5 linked regions of the Homo sapiens genome follow. The protein of the gene in region 3 purifies or fractionates together with the protein of the main gene of each other region. This does not show direct contact. Each region holds a gene or a part of one and is shown on either strand. Other genes may lie near its edges.

Region 1 (3,519 bases), on a different chromosome or scaffold from region 3:
TTGTTAGCCATGCTGTTGATCCCATAAGTATGGCAGCCCCATAGCTACTTTACTTTATTCCCTTTAGCTGTGTTGGTTTGTTGTTGTTTGGTTTTTTGTCTCTTGGAAAAGAAGATACAAATTAGTCACACAATGTTAGAGCTCAGAGGAATCTTAGAAATCATATTAATTAACTTTTTCTTTTACAGTAAGGAAATGGCCTTACATTTTCCCCTCTTTATTGCAGATCACAGCTTTCTGGGATTTGAATGGCAGAAACGGTGGTGTGCTCTCAGTAAAACGGTATTCTATTATTATGGAAGTGATAAAGGTAATGTTGGTGTTCAATTATATCAACTACTATTGCAAAAGAATTTTTGGCCATCCCTTCCCCCTCTTTTGAGTACAGAGTAAACTGAAGACAAACTAATAATAACTGAGAATTATAACAATTATAATCTGACTAATTTATGATTCATTTCATTATTTGACAAATGCTCCAAATACCAGAATACCCTCAGAGCTAAAACAATTGTGTTGTATTGAATTAGAAAAGAGAGTAAAATAACTTTAATCTGTGTGGCCTTTCACCTTAGGGAATATTTATTATCCAGCCTACTGTTGTAGAATTTCTGGAAAAGTTAAGAACATAGGGTTGTGAGAGTTTCAATGGCAGAAAATAGATTATTTTTCTTAAATATTTTAAAATAAAATTAGATAAAATTAAATACGAACAGCACCTTTCTGAGCTCCCTTTACAGATTTAAGGAATAACAGCAAACGTGTACATAGAATTTACTATATACTGGGCACCGTTCTAAGCACTTTGTCTAAGTACGTTAGCTATGTTAACTTGTTTAGCTCACAACAACTCTGTAAGTACTATTATTAGCACCATTAATTTGACTTTTAGGAAAACTGAGAACAGAGAGGTTAAGTGACTTGTTCAAGGTCACAGAGTTGGAAAATGGCAGATCTAGGAATTTGTTTTTCCTTTGTTTTTAGAAACAGGGTCTTGTCTCGGTGCCTAGGCTGGAGAGCTGTGACTGTTCACAGGTGTAGTCATCACACCCTGCAGCCTCAAACTCCTGGGCTCAAGTGATCTTCCTGTCTCAGTCTCCCAGGTAGCTGGGATTACAGGTGCACACCGCTGTACCCAGCTCAAATTTGGGATTTTAACCTAGAGAATATGGTTAGAGTCCATGTTCTCAACCACTATTGTCACTACATTAATTTAGAAATAATAGGATACATTTTATAACTTCATTGTTAATTAATAAATCTCTCAGTTGTAGTTCACATAATTTTAAGATTGTTATTTGAACAAATAAAGCCACCAAATAATGAAATTTAAAGATTGTAAGCTTTCTGAGTTTTGTTTTATTCTGGGGAAAACAGGCTAGGAGTTGAATATTATAAAGTAAAGGTTGTATCAAAATAGATAATGTTCATTTCCAGAAAGGACACTTTAAGAAGAAAAAGGCAAAAGTATCACTGAATGTAAGCTTTCCTATGGAATTGTTATCAGTGTTGTTTGGAAATTTATGTTTTATTTGACATTATTTATAGTTTTTAGAGTTTTTTCCCCCATTCTAAAAACATACAGGTAAGATTGTCATATTTCAGATAAGTCTGAAATACTTACATAATGCTGGAAGTTGTTCTTACCTTTTGGCTAATGAGATTAACAAATTAATTAATTTAGTAGCTAGTTTGCATTCCATCACTAATTTACAGTATGTTCAGATGTAGTAATGGCATCAGTGAAGTGTAAACTGTAAACAGCTATAAACAAGCATCTTTCTTCTGCTAAGGGTCAGTAGTGAAGTAGGTCAGAAAATTTAGAGTCCAAGTTCAGTTACGATTATCACAGATCATAGAAATATAGTTTTGTATGATATTGTGAATTTAGATCGAGATACTACCTTCCACAAAATATCCTCTTTTTCACCAGACCAGGGGAGGGAGGTTTCAGATCCTTGTGACTTTGATTCAATTAGGCTTCTCATTTCTAATTTCTTTAAGAATCAATGAATACTAATGTCAGTGTTTCCTCCATTTCTAGTCCTGACTGGCATATAACAATGGTTAGGTCAAAGATTAGCAAGAGTTTCCCCAAAACCCAAAGCGTGTTAATATTTACTTCAAACACTAATATATTCAATGAAAACATTTTAGTTAGAGTTATTTAGATATTAGTTACATTCCTTTTTTTTTTTTTCTTTTTAGAGATGCGGGGGCCTCACTCTGTCACCCAAGCTGGAGTGCAGTGGTGCCATCATAGCTTACTGCAATCTTGAATTCCTGAGTTCATTTTTATTCTTATTTGATGAGACCTAATGGTAGTAACATTGTTTGTAATTTGCATTTTAACTACTTTGTGATCCATTTAGCCCTTTCTGTCATTTCTGTTACTGGAAGGGGGTCTTGATCCAGACCCCAGGAGAGGGTTCTTGGATCTCATGCAAGAAAGAATTTGAGGCCAATCCGTAGAGGGAAGTGAAAGCAAGTTTATTAAGAAAGTAAAGAAACAAAAGAATCACTACTCCATAGGCAAAGCAGAGCATAGGCTGCTCAGCTGCTTACACTTATTGTTACTTCTTGATTATATGCTAAACAGGCAGTGGATTATTCATGAGTTTTCCTGAACTGGGGTTGGCAATTCTCAGAACTGAGGGTTTCTCCCCCTTTTTAAGCCATATAGGGTAACTTCCTGATGTTGCCATGGCATTTGTAAACTATCATGGCACTGGTAGGAGTGTCTTTTAGCATGCTAATGCGTTATAATTAGCATATAATGAGCAGTGAGGAAAACCAAAGGTCATTTTCATCACCATCTTGATTTTGGTGGGTTTTGGCCAGTTGCTTTCCTGCATCCTTTTATCAGCAAGGTCTTTGTGATCTGTACCTTGTGCCAACCTCCTATCTCATCATGTGACTAAGAATGCCTAACCTCCTGGGAATGCAGCCCCCATAGGTCAAAGCCTTATTTTACTCAGCCCCTATTCAAGACGGAGTTGCTCTGGTTTAAAAGCCTCTGACACTTCCACTTTAAAAAAATTACCATTTTAGCATTCCTTTTTCATGTTGATGTCTGAAGATGTGGCTTGTGTTTCCTTAAATTTTTCCCTTTTACTTTGCAGCCTCCTGTTTCCAGTGAAATTTTAGATTTGTTTCTTGTGGTTCTTTTTTCTATTGGCGGTTTCATTCGAAATTTTTAGCCAGTTCCTCTCTTTTAAGGGACTCCAAAAAAAGATCTGTCTTTAGACAGTTTTTAATTACTTGTTTGGCATGATCCCGATTTCCTTCCTTTATATCTTTTTCTTACCAGGAAAATATGTCAAATAATTTTTTTCTTTTGTGAAATTAGATATGATTTTTTATAGCCTTGTTTACTGTATGTGTGAACCATTTACCTAATGGGAAGAACTCATATCTAGCTATATGAGAACTATAATCCTCCAACTAAGTAGGATTTAGATAAATGGATTATAGAGGCACAGAAGGAGTTGACACCACTTACTAGGTTAAACTGTGCTT
Region 2 (3,519 bases), on a different chromosome or scaffold from region 3:
TAAACATTAAAAACAGCGGAGAAGGGCCAGGAGTGGTGGCTCTTGCCTGTAATCCCAGCACTTTGGGAGGCCAAGGCAGGAGGATCACTTGAGGTCAGGAGTTCAAGACCAGCCTGGCCAATGTGGCGAAACCCTGTCTCTACTGAAAATACAAAAAATAGCCAAGCATGGTGGCGCGTGCCTGTAGTCCCAGCTACTTGGGAGGCTGAGGCAGGAGAATCACGTGAACCTGGGAGACAGAGGTTGCAGTGAGCCAAGATCACTCCACTGCACTCCAGCCTGGGCAATAAAGTGAGACACCATCTCAAAAAAAAAAAAAAAAAAAAAAAAAACCAACAGCAGAGAAGAACTGAAAACAGGCCTACACAAAGAAAGATATCTCTAAAAGAGACAGGAATGTACAGAGAAAGAAGGAGTGACAGAAAATAGCAACCAGCTTGGTGGTTTACTCACACTGTTAATGTCAAAACAGAAATGAGCTAGCAGGCTGGATGGGCAGTGAGAAATTCCAGCACAATTAAACACAGAGCATCCCGAGAGAGAGGAAGTGGAACTAAAGCACTTTTGATGAGCAGGTGGTTGATAATACCCAGCAAAAGCTCCTTGTGCACCACATCCAACTTTCTCCTTGCAACTTTAGAGTCAGAAAATGATTCTACTTCTGATGGAAAAACAATGGGATTTGTTGTTATAAGAACAGGAACAGGTTTAGACTGGGACACAGTCCTGAGAGGAGGGAATGCTTCCATAAAAAAAGCAGAAAGGGAGACAGCTAGAACAGAGCCATCCTGCTGAAGACACTGTTCATCAGGACAGCAGCAGTCCTGGAGATGCTAGGAGGATGAGACACCAGGGTCCTAGGTGCTATGTCAGGTAAGAAAGGGTTTCCACTCACTTATCGCTATTGGCTATCTTGCGGAACTCTCGAACAGTCATGGCTTTCTTCTGTATGTTGTACTGAGTAAAGAGGCCAGACTGCCCCGTCACCAGCTGTTGAATGGGGGCAGGAATGACCAAATCATCAATGTCATCATAGGATGCTCGTGGCTTCCACTCTTTTGGAGGAACAACCTGAAGGGAACACAAGAAACAAAAAGACAGATGAGAAACCTGGCAAGCCAGTCAGAGTCCAGGAAGCATGTAGTTACCAGCCAACCTAACAGTCAATTTTACTAGACAGTTACTTTGATTTACCCACATTCACCAAAACACAGTAAGTCACAGGCATGCTAACCCTGATCCACTTTTGCCACCAACCAGCTGCCTAATTGCAGCAACCTAAGGTAAGTAATACTTGTTCCCAGCTTCAGTATCTTATTTGGACACCAAGAAAGGAGATTAAAGACTTGATTCTCTCTCAATCTCCTAGCCCAGGGCTCTCTTTAAAAAAATCACAAACACAACTTTACTTGATTTGGTCAACTCTATACTTGTACAGAATTTCCTTTTTTCACACACTAGATTACAGTTTAATTACAAAGAAGCATAACATTCTTAAAAATCTAATCTTGAGGCCGGGCACAGTGGCTCATGCCGGTAATCCCAGCACTTTGGGAGGCCGAGGCAGGTGGATCACCTGAGGTCAGAGTTTGAGATCAGCTTGGCCAACATGGTGAAACCCCATCTCTACTAAAAACACAAAAATTAGCCTGGTGTGGTGGCACTCAACTATAATCCCGGCTATTTGGGGGGCTGATGCAGGAGAATCGCTTGAACCCGGAGGCAGAGGTTGCAGTGAGCCAAGATTGCGCCATTGCACTCCAGCTGGGGTAACAAGAGCGAAACTCCATCTCAAAAAAAAACAAAAAAAATCTAATCTTGAATAGTTAAGTAAGATAGATCTGCTTTATGGAATACTATACAGCTTTTTTTTTTTTAATTAGAGAGTATTGTTTTACTTTATGTAACAAGGGAGAAAACAACACACACACACACACACACACACACACACACACACACTCACAAGCATCTGCATAAGGCAACACTGAAAGGACATATAAGAAAATACGGAAAGGGAGCAAGACTCTACATTAGCTACCTTCCAATAGCATTCTGTTTTTACTCACATAATCAAATTACCCATTCCAATAGTAATAAATTAACAAGACAGTCGACATGAGAAAAAAGAAGAATGAGTTGAATCCATAATTGACCTAGAGGGAGGAATATATGTTGTTAAAAAGGAAAAAAGAAAAAAAAAAAGAAAAAAGAATGAACGAACCAACACAGGAATGTATATGGCATGATGCCATTCTCTTTTAAAAACAAAACAAATAACACTATTTTATATGTGTGTATGTTTGTATGAGCAGAGAAAAAGGTGTGGAGGGAGCTAATACCACTTAAGGAGACGGCACTGGAGAAGGTGGATGAAGATCAGCCTTTTCTTTATCTGCGTTTGAAATATTTAACTTGTAATAACCGACATTTTTTTGGTAACTTTAAATCTAATAAAGTACAACCAAAAAAAGCAATGTGCTATGAAAAACTGCACTGCAGGCCCTGCTATTCCCGCCTGCTGTTATTAACCCAGCAGTAGCCGTATCTGCAGATAAGAAAGAGGATGTGGTCGTCTCAAGTCTCTGGAGGCACCAGGGTCCAAGACTGGTCCTCAGCTTTGTAGCCAATGTTCTTGCTTTCTCTTTTCATATTGAAAATGTAACAAGCACATATGGTAGGGAATTCAAACAACATAAAATGGTGTAAAAAATTTCCTCCTGGCTTAGACTGAGGTCCCTGCCTCTCAGTTTCCTGAGGATCTCTCCAGAAATGCAGTTCTTTCAGCTTCCAGCACTCAACCTGATTGTGACAGAATATATGAAAAGCTGATTTGACTCAGGAAAAATAACGAATCCAACTCACAGGAGAAAGAAGTACAAACCAGAAACCAATTTCAAATTACAAGGACCAGAATACTCATGTTGGCTGGCCAGTGCATTCTCTCCCCTTGAAGAAAGTCCACATGGGAAGCCAAATTGCTACTAGAGTGCTGGATGAGACTGAAATGAGAGCAAGAGAAGTCAGATGGCATAAGCACTCACTGGCAGTTCAATAACACCACAGCACCCAGCTCCACCAAGAGGGCTGAGGCACAACAGCAGCCAGGCCTGGAGACACTAGCTCTTTACCTCCCCCTTTCTGAAGATTCCAAGTAGCTCTCTTCCTACCTAAAAGCAGAGATGCTTCTGATGTTAACAACGGGAATTAACTTGCAAATAGAACCGCATTCACTAAAGTCATCACCCCACCCAACTTTCAGTAAAACACAGTTCCGGCCCAAATGTAGGAAAAAAATCTTACTGCTCTGCCCTAGGTAACAAAACCATTTGAACAATCCCAGCTCCTTACCTTGGCTAGCCCTGCCCGATGAGCTCCTTGGGATTCAATGTAGGCAATGTATCTACTGAAGTTTCGGAACTCTTCCATAGTTGGATAAAAGGTCATTATCCTAGCACTGGGATTCAGAGTTTCAGACTCAGAAGCCATTTTCCCTCCTTTTTGAGGTCCCTTTAGTCAGAC
Region 3 (3,519 bases):
ACAAGAAATTACTTACAACTCAATCTCATCCATTGTCTTAAACAAACATCCCTCGAACCATATCACAATTATTTGCCAGAGAGAATCAGAGGTCAATTAAAAAAAATTACAGTGAAATGAAGTATAAGCTACTATTGCTCCAGTTGATATCACAGACAAACTGGGGCAAAGAAAACACAAATGCATTCTTTGCATTAAAAAAGGATACTTTTTTAAAAAACGACACTCAAAAAATAATTCAGACACTGAATACCTACTATGTACAAAGCACCAGTGTTTAAAAAGTTACATACCAGCCTGTAATGGAAGAATCATGCCTACCTCCACCAACTTACCACTTACCACAAAACCAGCTTTCAAACAATGGGACTGTCTGTCCATGGATTTGCCTTCTAGTGACCAGCTCAACTCAGAGAAGGGGCAAAACATGTTTTCATGTTTGTAAGCTTACATTAAAAAGTAGGGATCTTCAACCATAAGAAGAGGCACCAACTCTCTTCAGGTTTTCACAGAAGCATTTTCATCAAAACAGGTGATTTTTTAAAGTGGGTTTTTTTCTAACAGAAAAATATATATTTAACAAAACATAGCAAGATATTTTTACTCTTAATGGAATTGTAAAGATAGCACTCTTCCCCTAAGCCCTGATAATGCTTCTGTCCAGTTTCACTTTAACCAGATGATTAAATGTTTTACAGAAACTATCCTCTGCTTCTTTGAGACACTCTACAGGATTAAGTGTTATATACATAATAGGCTTCAAGGAACATTTCCAATGAGTAAAAAGCAAGGGCCTTATCTTTTCCACCCTTTAGTTGATTCCTGTTTGTTCAAAGGTCTCATACCTTACCTTGCAACCTCTATTGCTTCAACCCTTTAAAACTTACCCATCCAACTCTACCTCCTGTCTTCGGGATAAATTAATCTCACCTTCAAAGAGACCCTTTGCCCCCTCCCCAGTGGTATCCTATGCCATTCAGTGTTGCTCAGCATTCCTAGGTTTAGTATATAGAAGACTGGAACTAAGGACACAGGACTGAAGCTTGTCAGATATTCTGCCATTCTTCTGAGGTCACAAAATTCAAGGCAAAAATTAAATTCACACAGCCCACCTATAAAACAGTAAACTAGATTCAATGCCTCTTCCTCATAGCTTTGGAAAATAAATAGAAAAGCAAAACCTAACTTCTCTATTTTATTTAAGGAGACAAGCAATAAACACTATCATCCATCACTGAGGCCTAAATTCAACAGTGACCAAAGTGTCAACTGTAATACAAAGAGAAGTCATTCACCACAGGAACTATAGCTTTCTAATAGTAAGCATCTATGACATGGGGAAAGCTTACCAATGCAAGCCAAAAAGTTTTCTACACAGCCCCATCAGTTGGGCACTTACCTTATTAGCAAGGCAAAGGATATAAGCCCTAAAGCATCTAATCACAGAAACAAAAACAAAAAAAGAAAGGATTCTTGTTTTACAACCATTGTAGTGCAAACTAAGAATCTTTTTAGTGAGCAGACTTTTGAGTAAGAAAAGTTATAAAAGATCACATCAGAGGTGACAATTCTAAGGAAAGCCAAGTAAGATGTGCTTAACATATTAATAGAGTATATTTTACCTAAGAATCTGACTTTAAGTATCCTGAGTGAGAGATAGACACCACTTTTTCCATTAACTTTTTACGTAATCCTTCTAAAAAAATATTATGTCATACTTATACTCCATACTATCAACACTTAAGTTTCCTGGTAATCTCTGTTTTGTTCTTTAACACATCTGTCTATCTACAGTATTACTAAACCTGAATTGCACAATCTATAAACATTATGAAACAGTGAAAGAGGTTTCGAAGTATTCTGAAGAAAATATGCAGAAATCTGGCCAGTTTCCATACACTCTTGGCCACTTAATATTTCTAATTAGGTTATAAGTAAAGAGGATTTCATTATATTAAAATTTTGTTTAAAATGGCCTCCATTCCTATTCTAGTAGTTGAGAGAGAAAAATCACATAAACTTATTGCTCTTGATAAACCTAAGCACAGCTCTCTATCTCATTTAAAGAAACCATGAGGCTTTGATTTTTATTATAAATATCCAAATGAATTACAGGTATGAATATATACATTTATTTATATTTACATTTATATTTATCTGAGATACTTCCTCAACCAATGACTAAAAACATCCAAATTGGAAATTATAACACTTGGGTAAATAAAGACCTTTCTTGGGAATTGACTTTTTAAATCCTATTCTTGGGAAAGAGAAAAAGAAAAGAAAAAAGCGTACTTTGGGAGGCTGAGGTGGGAGGATTGCTTGAGCTCAGTCAGGAGGTCAAGACCAGCTGCCTGGCACATGCCTGTAGTCCCAGCCGCCTGGCACATGCCTATAGTCCCAGCAACCTTGGGGGGGTGGAATACAGGGGCTGGGGGGCAAGTTGCTGAGGTGGCAGGATTGCTTGAGCCCAGGAGGTTGAGGCTGCAGTGAGCCATGATTGTGCCACTGCACTCCAGCCTGGGTGACAGAGCAAGAACCTGTCTCTGGAAAACAAACAAAAAAAAAAGAATATGGTCTCATACAGCTACAATTTAAGTGACTAACATGCCATTTTATTTTGGATAAATGATACTTAAGTGATTCAAATTATCACTATTAGATCAATGACAATCCAGGCCCTCTAATATATGTTAACACATTAATTAATACTGTTTTAACTGCCCCTCCCCCCCCAACCTGTAACTTTTAAAGACTCAGATTGGTAGTATAAGTGTTTTAGACAAGCCATGTGCTGGTAACACGTATCTCCCCATTGTTTCCTACCTTCCTTCACACAGTAAACAAACCATTTTAGAGTCACTTATATGACCTCATTATCAAACACACTTGAAGAAGCCACAGGTGTACTCTACTTAACAAGTCAGTGACATTTCTTTGCATCAGTTCTAAAATAAGTTCATTCACTAGATAATAAAGAGAATAAAACTAAAAATCCTAGGTCTCAACTGAATAATCAGTTTTAATAAAATCACCTCTCCATATGATTTTTTTTAGTAACTCACAATCAGGAGTGGGAATTACAGAACCATGAGATTAAACTAATAATCTAACAATTAGTCAAGGCAATGATTAAGCCAATATAATGTTTCAAGAGGAAGAACTGAGCTTTTTTTTTTTTTTTTTTTTTGAGACGGAGTCTTGCTCTGTCGCCCAGGCTGGAGTGCAGTGGCACGATCTCGGCTCACTGCAAGCTCCGCCTCCTGGGTTCACGCCATTCTCCTGCCTCAGCCTCCCGAGTAGCTGGGACTACAGGCGCCGCCACCTTGCCCGGCTAATTTTTTTGTATTTTTAATACAGACGGGGTTTCACGGTGTTACCCCAAAGTGCTAGGATTACAGGCGTGAACCACGGCGCCCGGCCAGAACTAAGCTTTTTATATCGTTTAGTTTAGGAGCAGGAAGGTAAAAATAAGATCATGGTCTGGACATGTTAAATTTGAGGAATCAGGCACAAACA
Region 4 (3,519 bases), on a different chromosome or scaffold from region 3:
GAAACTTGGTGGAGGAGCTCTTTAGAGCCCAGACTGAGACCCCTGTGGAGGAAACACTGCTCAGGTGTTTCCTCCACAGGCCATGTGAACCCGTGCACATGGCCTCTGGCTCTTTAAATCATGTAACAAAGGGGCTTTGGGGAGTGTCATAAATGTTCTATTTTTATCTGCATATGGGTGTGTTTGAAAATCCACTGAGCTGTACATTTATGACTTTTGCACTTTTCCCTGTTTTTACATGGGGACTCATAAAGATATTGCAAAACTCAGCTGCCACCACTGCTGTCACCTTTCCAGGATGCCCAGAACTGATAAATCCTAGACTTACAAACTTTCATCTCCCACAAATTACAGGAAAGGAACAATGACAAACTTTATTCCAGGATTTAATTCATAGAAACGACAGAAATCATTGGAGAAAATAACCATGTCAAGTGACACCTTATTGAGAAATTGCTAATTATTGAAACCAGGAACAGTAAATGGTCATGCAAAGATAAGGCACAGAATAGTAAGAAATTTTGGAATGAACCAGATCTGGAGTCAAGAACTAGCTCCATAATTTACTAAACCATGTGACTTAAGGGAGGTTATTTTATCCCTTAAAACTATTCCTCATCTATAAAATGAGTTAAATAATACCTACCTTACAGGAATGTGTGAGGAATAGAATTAACATACTGAAATGTTCTCCCAGTATCTAAAATCAATGATGGCTACTATTATTGTGTAGAAAAGGTAGTGCAACCTTATGTGACACTATCAAAAATAAAGAAAAAGCACCAATAAGTCTCTTTAGGGCTATAACAGCATCTTTCATGGCGGTATCCTAAACATCTAATATAATGCCCAATACAGAGTTTCAATGAATATTTGCTAAAATTAATTATGTATGACTTCAGAGAGGTTAGCAGAATAGTCATGGCAGAATTTAGAGTAAAACAATACATTTTGTGTGTAATAGAAATTACTGTAGTCAGGAAGTCTTACACAAAATGGTGGTTTGATGTGAATGTAGGATTGAAGAAATGTGTTTATTTTAATGAAGACTTAAGAGACATTTAAAATGTAAGATAAGATAGATTAAAAGTAATGATGTAAACTTCCTGTTAAAATGGCTTCTCACTAGCAACCACCAAAACAGCATATTCCAACTTCCTAATAAAATGCCCAGGAGACAGAGAAAAGAAAAACAAACAAACAAAAAAAACTTATACTATCAGCCCAAACTGAAAACTATAGCCAATCACACGCAAGGGTTCAGGAGGATTCACATGTTTGTTCACGAGACAAATGGAGGTAAACAAAGAAAAAATTAATCCCACTTGTTGTATTACCTGATGTCTTTTATGTCTTTGCTTATGAAGCAAAAGTTACATAGAAGGCTGGAGGAGTATTATCTTTCCTGGGATTTTAAAGCCGAAAACCTGAACCAAACAAAAATGGGATGCAGTCCTTCACACCTTAGGCAGAAAAGAGTTAATCCCCTTTATCATTTTGCTTCTGGTGGCATTGTTTAAGATCTAGGCAGACAGTACAAAAGATCCGATATAAATGGTGGGAAAGTACGGAGTGAGGTATTGTTAGTGGCAGAGTGCATACCAAAATAAAGTCTCAAGGAGTAACACGTCTGAGAGGGTAAATATATGAAGAACTCTGGCAGTAGGATATATGAGAATTACAGTTTACTGTAGGTGTGAGTTCTAGAGAATCAATCACTGGGGGGATAGGAAAAAGTTGCCAATTAAGTAATGCATACATATTCTAAGTAAAAATCTAAAAGAAGTGGTGTTGGAGTAGGAGGAGTACACACATATTAGCTTCAGTTCTGACTATGAAAAAGGAATGCTGACCACATAAATAGAGAGTAATACAAGCTACTCACTCCATCTACTGAGCCTGAACAAATGTATCTTATTCAAAATGAGTTAGAAGAAAAAAAGACATATATGGAGTGTAAAAAAATTACCATAGGACATAAAGTGATTAAGATCCAGAAGATTCAAGTGAAATAGATAACATTTAAGAATTAACTACCAAAGAATCCAGAGAAATTTTCTACAATATAATGTAAACATTTACTCCAATAGACTTGGAAGTCTAAAAGAAATAGATGATTCCTGAGAGAGACATAAATTACCAAAATGACTTAGGTCTGGATTGGAAAAAAAATAAGATTTACCCATTAAAATATACCAAGAAACATAAAACTACATAGTTGAAGTCTACCAAATATCAAAGAACAAGCAATGCCTATTAAATAAACCATTCCAAGCTTAAAAAATGGAAAGCTTCCCAATCTATTTTACAAAAACAGCATAACCTTGGGCCCAAACTGAGGGTCACACAATAAAATAACCTAATAGGCTCATTTCTATTATAAACATAAATGCAAAAATTTTACATGAAGTACTGCCAAATCAAAATCCCTAATGAATTAAAATAATGTATCAAGTAGTTTAGTCCAAGAATATAAGGATGATTCATCATTTTTTAAAAAACGTAATAATGTAATTCACTACATTACATTTTTAAATGGGAAACACAATATGATCTCAATAGATTTTGAAAAAAAAATAGCACTTGATAAAATATGTCACCTTCTCCACCAGGATGGTGTAAAGATATAGGGATATCCTAGAAAGTTGGGAATAAAGTAAAACTTCCTTAAAGTGTCCCTCATAAAAACCTATAGCAAACATCACTCTTGAGAAAACTTTAAAAGCATTCTCATTAAATTCAGGAATATCAGGAGTAAGACAAAGTCACTCACTATCATTAGTATTCAACAAAACACTCTTTAATATATAAGAGGCTAGAAAAAGAAATGGAACCCGGGTTCTTGGCTACAAGCAGCAAAAACCAACAAACTTAAGCCATAAAGAATTCATTGGAAGGACTTCAGTAGCTCACAGAAAAAAAAAAAATGGGACGCTAAAGAAAACAAACAAGAACTAAGGACATTCCAGAGGTCTATGCACGTGGGATGATCTTAGTAAAGGTCTAGAGCAGAACCAGTTCAATGAGCATAGAGCATACTCTGCTGAGATCATTGAGTTCCAACTGTTCTATCCAGCCATGACCAGACTTGCAAAGGAACATCTATACAACAAAAAATACTGCAGATAGATTACGAACCTATACTTTTATAGAACTATAGAATTTTTTAAAAAAAGATCAAGGACGAGTATTTTTATAACCTTAGGCCTGAGAAACCCCTTCTTAAAATGCACAAATCCCAATAGTGACATAGGAGAAAAAAATTAATAGATTTTTTCATGGAAAAGTAAAAATATTATGAGATTTTTTAAACTTCTGCAATAAAAGACAATATAAACAAAGTTAAAGATAGCAAGAGTTATGGGAAAAAAGGACTACAGACATAAATAGAATGAATATCCATGATCCACAAAGACAGTAAATAGAAGACAATAACCTACAGCCCAATAAGAAAATGGACAAAAAAAAATTAAGCAATTTACATGAAATACAAATGACCAATAAGAGGCACAAACACAT
Region 5 (3,519 bases), on a different chromosome or scaffold from region 3:
CAATGCAACGATTTTCTATTTCAGAACCAAGCACAGGATGCACTAACCTCACACCCGCTCTATTTATGGCCACTGCGAGGGAAACATACCTGTGAACTCAGACTTAAAGCCTGGGGGAGGAGGTCCTGCTGAGTTGGTGAATCTCTGGTAACGGTGGGAAAATGGAGGATACTCAGAGTACGGTGGAGGAGAATACTGCCCGTCACTCAGGAACAGCTTATAGACTACAAACGCGATCCCAAGGAGTACCACAATGGTAATCAATCCACTCATGTTACAGGAATCCGCCGAGGACCACTTATAATAATAATCAGAGAAAGAGGCAAAGCCGTGCTGCTTTCCAGACTCCTTCAGTTTCTGCAGGCCAAGTTCTGTATAATCTAAATTATACTCCAAGCCACAAGAACCTCTTAGTACATACTGGTCTTCAGAGGACTCATAGCCTTCACAGCTCACCACAGTTTTTCCAAATTTGTATGCAATATCTAAGTCCGTCTTACATTCCCACTGTGAAGAAAAATAGAAACAGACTATTAGAAACAAACATTTTTTTCATTTAATATATGTTACTTGGGGGCCGGGCGCAGTGGCTCACACCTGTAATCTCAGCACTTTCGGAGGCCAAGGCGGGTGGATCACGCGGTCAGGAGTTCAAGACCCGCCTGGCCAAGATGGTGAAACCCCATCTTTATTAAAAATACAAAAATTAGCCAGGCGCAGTGGCAGGCGCCTATAATCCCAGCTACTAAGGAGGCTGAGGCAGGAGAATCACTTGAACCTGGGAGGTGGAGGTTGCAGTGAGCTGAGATCGTGATTGCACTCTAGCCTGAGCAACAGAGCAAGACTCCGTCTCAAGAAAAAAAAAAATGTTACTTGGGCTATATATCCGTCATAAAATTGCAAAATGAAGCAAGGGAATGATCCGCAAAATTCACAATGGTAAGTATTCATGTCTAAGGGAAGGAAAATGAGGGGCTTCAAAGATAATGGTGGTATCTGTGTTCTACTTCTTATGCTGGATATTGCGTATATGAGTATTCGTTTTATTACTATTCTTTACATATACATGTTATATATCCATCTGAACATATTAAGTATTCTACAATTTATAAAATTTAAGCAAACTGCCAAAATGTCAACTTTTTGCCACTGTTGTTCAAGATGCTTTCTTTAAAAATCCAGATTTCTTAAAAGATGTTAAGGCTCAAAACAGCATCATATATGAATGTCTGGTAGCTACACAAAGCAACAGAGATATTACATAACCTTCAGAGAAAAAAACTTTTCTACACAAATTTTATAAAACCATGGACTAACTTTCCAAGGTCCAATTCTATGTAATTCTCTTGTATTTTTTAAAGATATTTAGAAAAATGCAAAAAGAACCCAGGCTAGCCCCAAAAATGTCCACCTTATAAAAAAATATATGCCCAAGTTTGGTCTAGATTCTATATTTTGTGGTGGAAAAAGCAATATGCTTCTTTAACTCTTAAGATACAAGCTAAAGGCCAGGCGCGGTGGTTCATGCTTGTAATCCCAGCACTTTGGGAGGCCAAGGTGGGCGGATCACCTGAGGTCAGGAGTTCAAGAACAGCCTGGCCAAAATGGCAAAACCCCATCTCTACGAAAAATACAAAAATGAGGTGGGCATGGTGGCAGGCGCCTGTAATCCCAGCTACTTCAAAAATAGAGGCTGAGGCAGGAGAACGACTTGAACCCAGAGGCAGAGGTTGCAGTGAGCCAAGATCATGTCACTGCACTGTACTCCAGACTGGGTGACAGAGGGAGACTCCGTCTCAAAAAAAATGAAAAAAGACACAAGCTAAAGTAGATTTAATTGGTTCTGTTGCCCTTCTGCAAATTTTTGTACAAATTATTTTCCTCTTTCAAAGTTCACACTATTTTACTTCATTTATAATAGCCTTATTGAAATATAATTCACACATACCATACAATTCACCCATTTCAATGGTTTTAGTATATTCACAGTTGTGCTACTGTCACCACAATCAATTTTAGAATATTTTCGTCACCCCAAAGAAATATTGTGCCCATTAGCAGTCACTCTCCATTCTCCCGCCGCACACCTCCCAACCAACTTTCTGTCTATATGGATTTCCCTAAATGGACAGTTCACAGGAATGTAATAATACAATATGTGGTCTTTTGTGACTGGCTTCTTTCACTTAGCATAACATTTTCAAGATTCATCCACGTTGTAGCATGTATTACTATTTCACTTTTTTATGGCTAAATAATATTTCTTTGCATGGATATACCACTTTTATTTATCGTTCATTAGTAATGGACATTTGAATTGTTTCTACTTTTTGGCTATTATGAATAATGCTGCTATGTATATTTGTATGCAAGTTTTTGTGTGGACATGTGTTTTCAATTCTCTTGGGTGTATATACCTTGGAGTGGAATGACTGAGGCATACATGGTAACTCTACATTTAAACTTTTGAGGAACTGCCAATTTTCCAAAGCAGCTGGACCATTTCACATTCCCAACAGCAGTGTATGAGGGTTCCAATTTCTCGACATCCTCACCAGCCTTGTTATCTTTTTTATTATAGCCTTCCTACTGAGTGTGAAGTGGTATCTTACTGTGGCTTTGATTTGCATTTCTCTGATGGCTAATAATAAGGAACACTTTTCATGTGCTTATTTATTACTTATATATCTTCCTTGTAGAAATGTCTATTCAGATGCTCTGCCATTTTTACCTTGGTTGTTTTCTTACTGAGTTGTAAGAGTTATTTTATATTCTAAATACAAGTCCCTCACCAATTATGATTTGCTAAGCTTCCTCCCATTCTGTAGGTTGTCTTTTCACTTTCTTGATGATGTCCTTTGATAGTCAAAAGTTTTTCATTTGGATAAGATGCAGTTTTTCTTTTGTTGCTGTTACTACACTGTTTTTAAAATAATTTTATTTGGAGGAAGATTCATAGGTTTGTTGACTTAGGTAAATAAAACAAGCTAAACTTGTATTGGTATTTCATGTTAACTACCACTTCCTTAATCATGCGTACTTACAAGTAGCTTCTAAGTACTGTATTTAAATTTCAACTCTTGGAATAGAAGGAGTTTCTGTCCTGCTACTAAATGGCCTCTCTCCTGCTACTAAACATAAGCCAATGTATGATATGCTCAACACTCCTTTGCTCATGCTATTCCCTTCTCTAGCCTTTCCTCTCTAAAAATGTTATCATTCCTTCCTAACACAGCACAAATGTCTCATCCTTTAAGTCCCAATGGCTCCAACCAGACGTGACTTTATAATGTTGTGTTGGGACCTACATGTAATCTGAGTGCCTGTCTTACCTCTTCTACTAGTAAGACAGTTTCTTCATTCTACCTTATTCATTTTTGTATATTGCAATTAATACATGCTTAATGAATGACATCACCATTACTGCCTTTTTTTCCCATCAAGACTCTAAAAGTCATAAGTAAAGTGGAGTGAGACTTCTGCTATAACCCAGAGAATTCTATGATTCAACTTAGCAGT

What was found.
Region 1: the proteins of ABHD5 (region 3) and SKAP2 purify together in Homo sapiens (affinity purification with mass spectrometry; 2 studies listed by BioGRID and IntAct, with this or other methods). This does not show direct contact.
Region 2: the proteins of ABHD5 (region 3) and KDM4A purify together in Homo sapiens (affinity purification with mass spectrometry; one large-scale study listed by BioGRID and IntAct). This does not show direct contact.
Region 4: the proteins of ABHD5 (region 3) and TMEM38B purify together in Homo sapiens (affinity purification with mass spectrometry; 2 studies listed by BioGRID and IntAct, with this or other methods). This does not show direct contact.
Region 5: the proteins of ABHD5 (region 3) and SARAF purify together in Homo sapiens (affinity purification with mass spectrometry; 2 studies listed by BioGRID and IntAct, with this or other methods). This does not show direct contact.

The regions. Positions count from the first base shown.
Region 1 is NC_000007.14:26,735,586-26,739,104, reverse strand, and holds part of SKAP2 (src kinase-associated phosphoprotein 2), read left to right. Parts: intron 1-226; coding exon 227-310; intron 311-3,519. UniProt on the Homo sapiens protein: May be involved in B-cell and macrophage adhesion processes. In B-cells, may act by coupling the B-cell receptor (BCR) to integrin activation. May play a role in src signaling pathway.
Region 2 is NC_000001.11:43,653,143-43,656,661, reverse strand, and holds part of KDM4A (lysine-specific demethylase 4A), read right to left. Parts: 5' UTR 3,487-3,519; coding exon 3,349-3,486; intron 1,072-3,348; coding exon 896-1,071; intron 1-895. UniProt on the Homo sapiens protein: Histone demethylase that specifically demethylates 'Lys-9' and 'Lys-36' residues of histone H3, thereby playing a central role in histone code. Does not demethylate histone H3 'Lys-4', H3 'Lys-27' nor H4 'Lys-20'.
Region 3 is NC_000003.12:43,693,930-43,697,448, reverse strand, and holds part of ABHD5 (1-acylglycerol-3-phosphate O-acyltransferase ABHD5), read right to left. Parts: intron 1-3,519. UniProt on the Homo sapiens protein: Coenzyme A-dependent lysophosphatidic acid acyltransferase that catalyzes the transfer of an acyl group on a lysophosphatidic acid.
Region 4 is NC_000009.12:105,697,525-105,701,043, reverse strand, and holds part of TMEM38B (trimeric intracellular cation channel type B), read right to left. Parts: intron 87-3,519; exon of another isoform or gene 1-86. UniProt on the Homo sapiens protein: Intracellular monovalent cation channel required for maintenance of rapid intracellular calcium release. Acts as a potassium counter-ion channel that functions in synchronization with calcium release from intracellular stores.
Region 5 is NC_000008.11:30,069,553-30,073,071, forward strand, and holds part of SARAF (store-operated calcium entry-associated regulatory factor isoform 1 precursor), read right to left. Parts: intron 508-3,519; coding exon 90-507; intron 1-89. UniProt on the Homo sapiens protein: Negative regulator of store-operated Ca(2+) entry (SOCE) involved in protecting cells from Ca(2+) overfilling.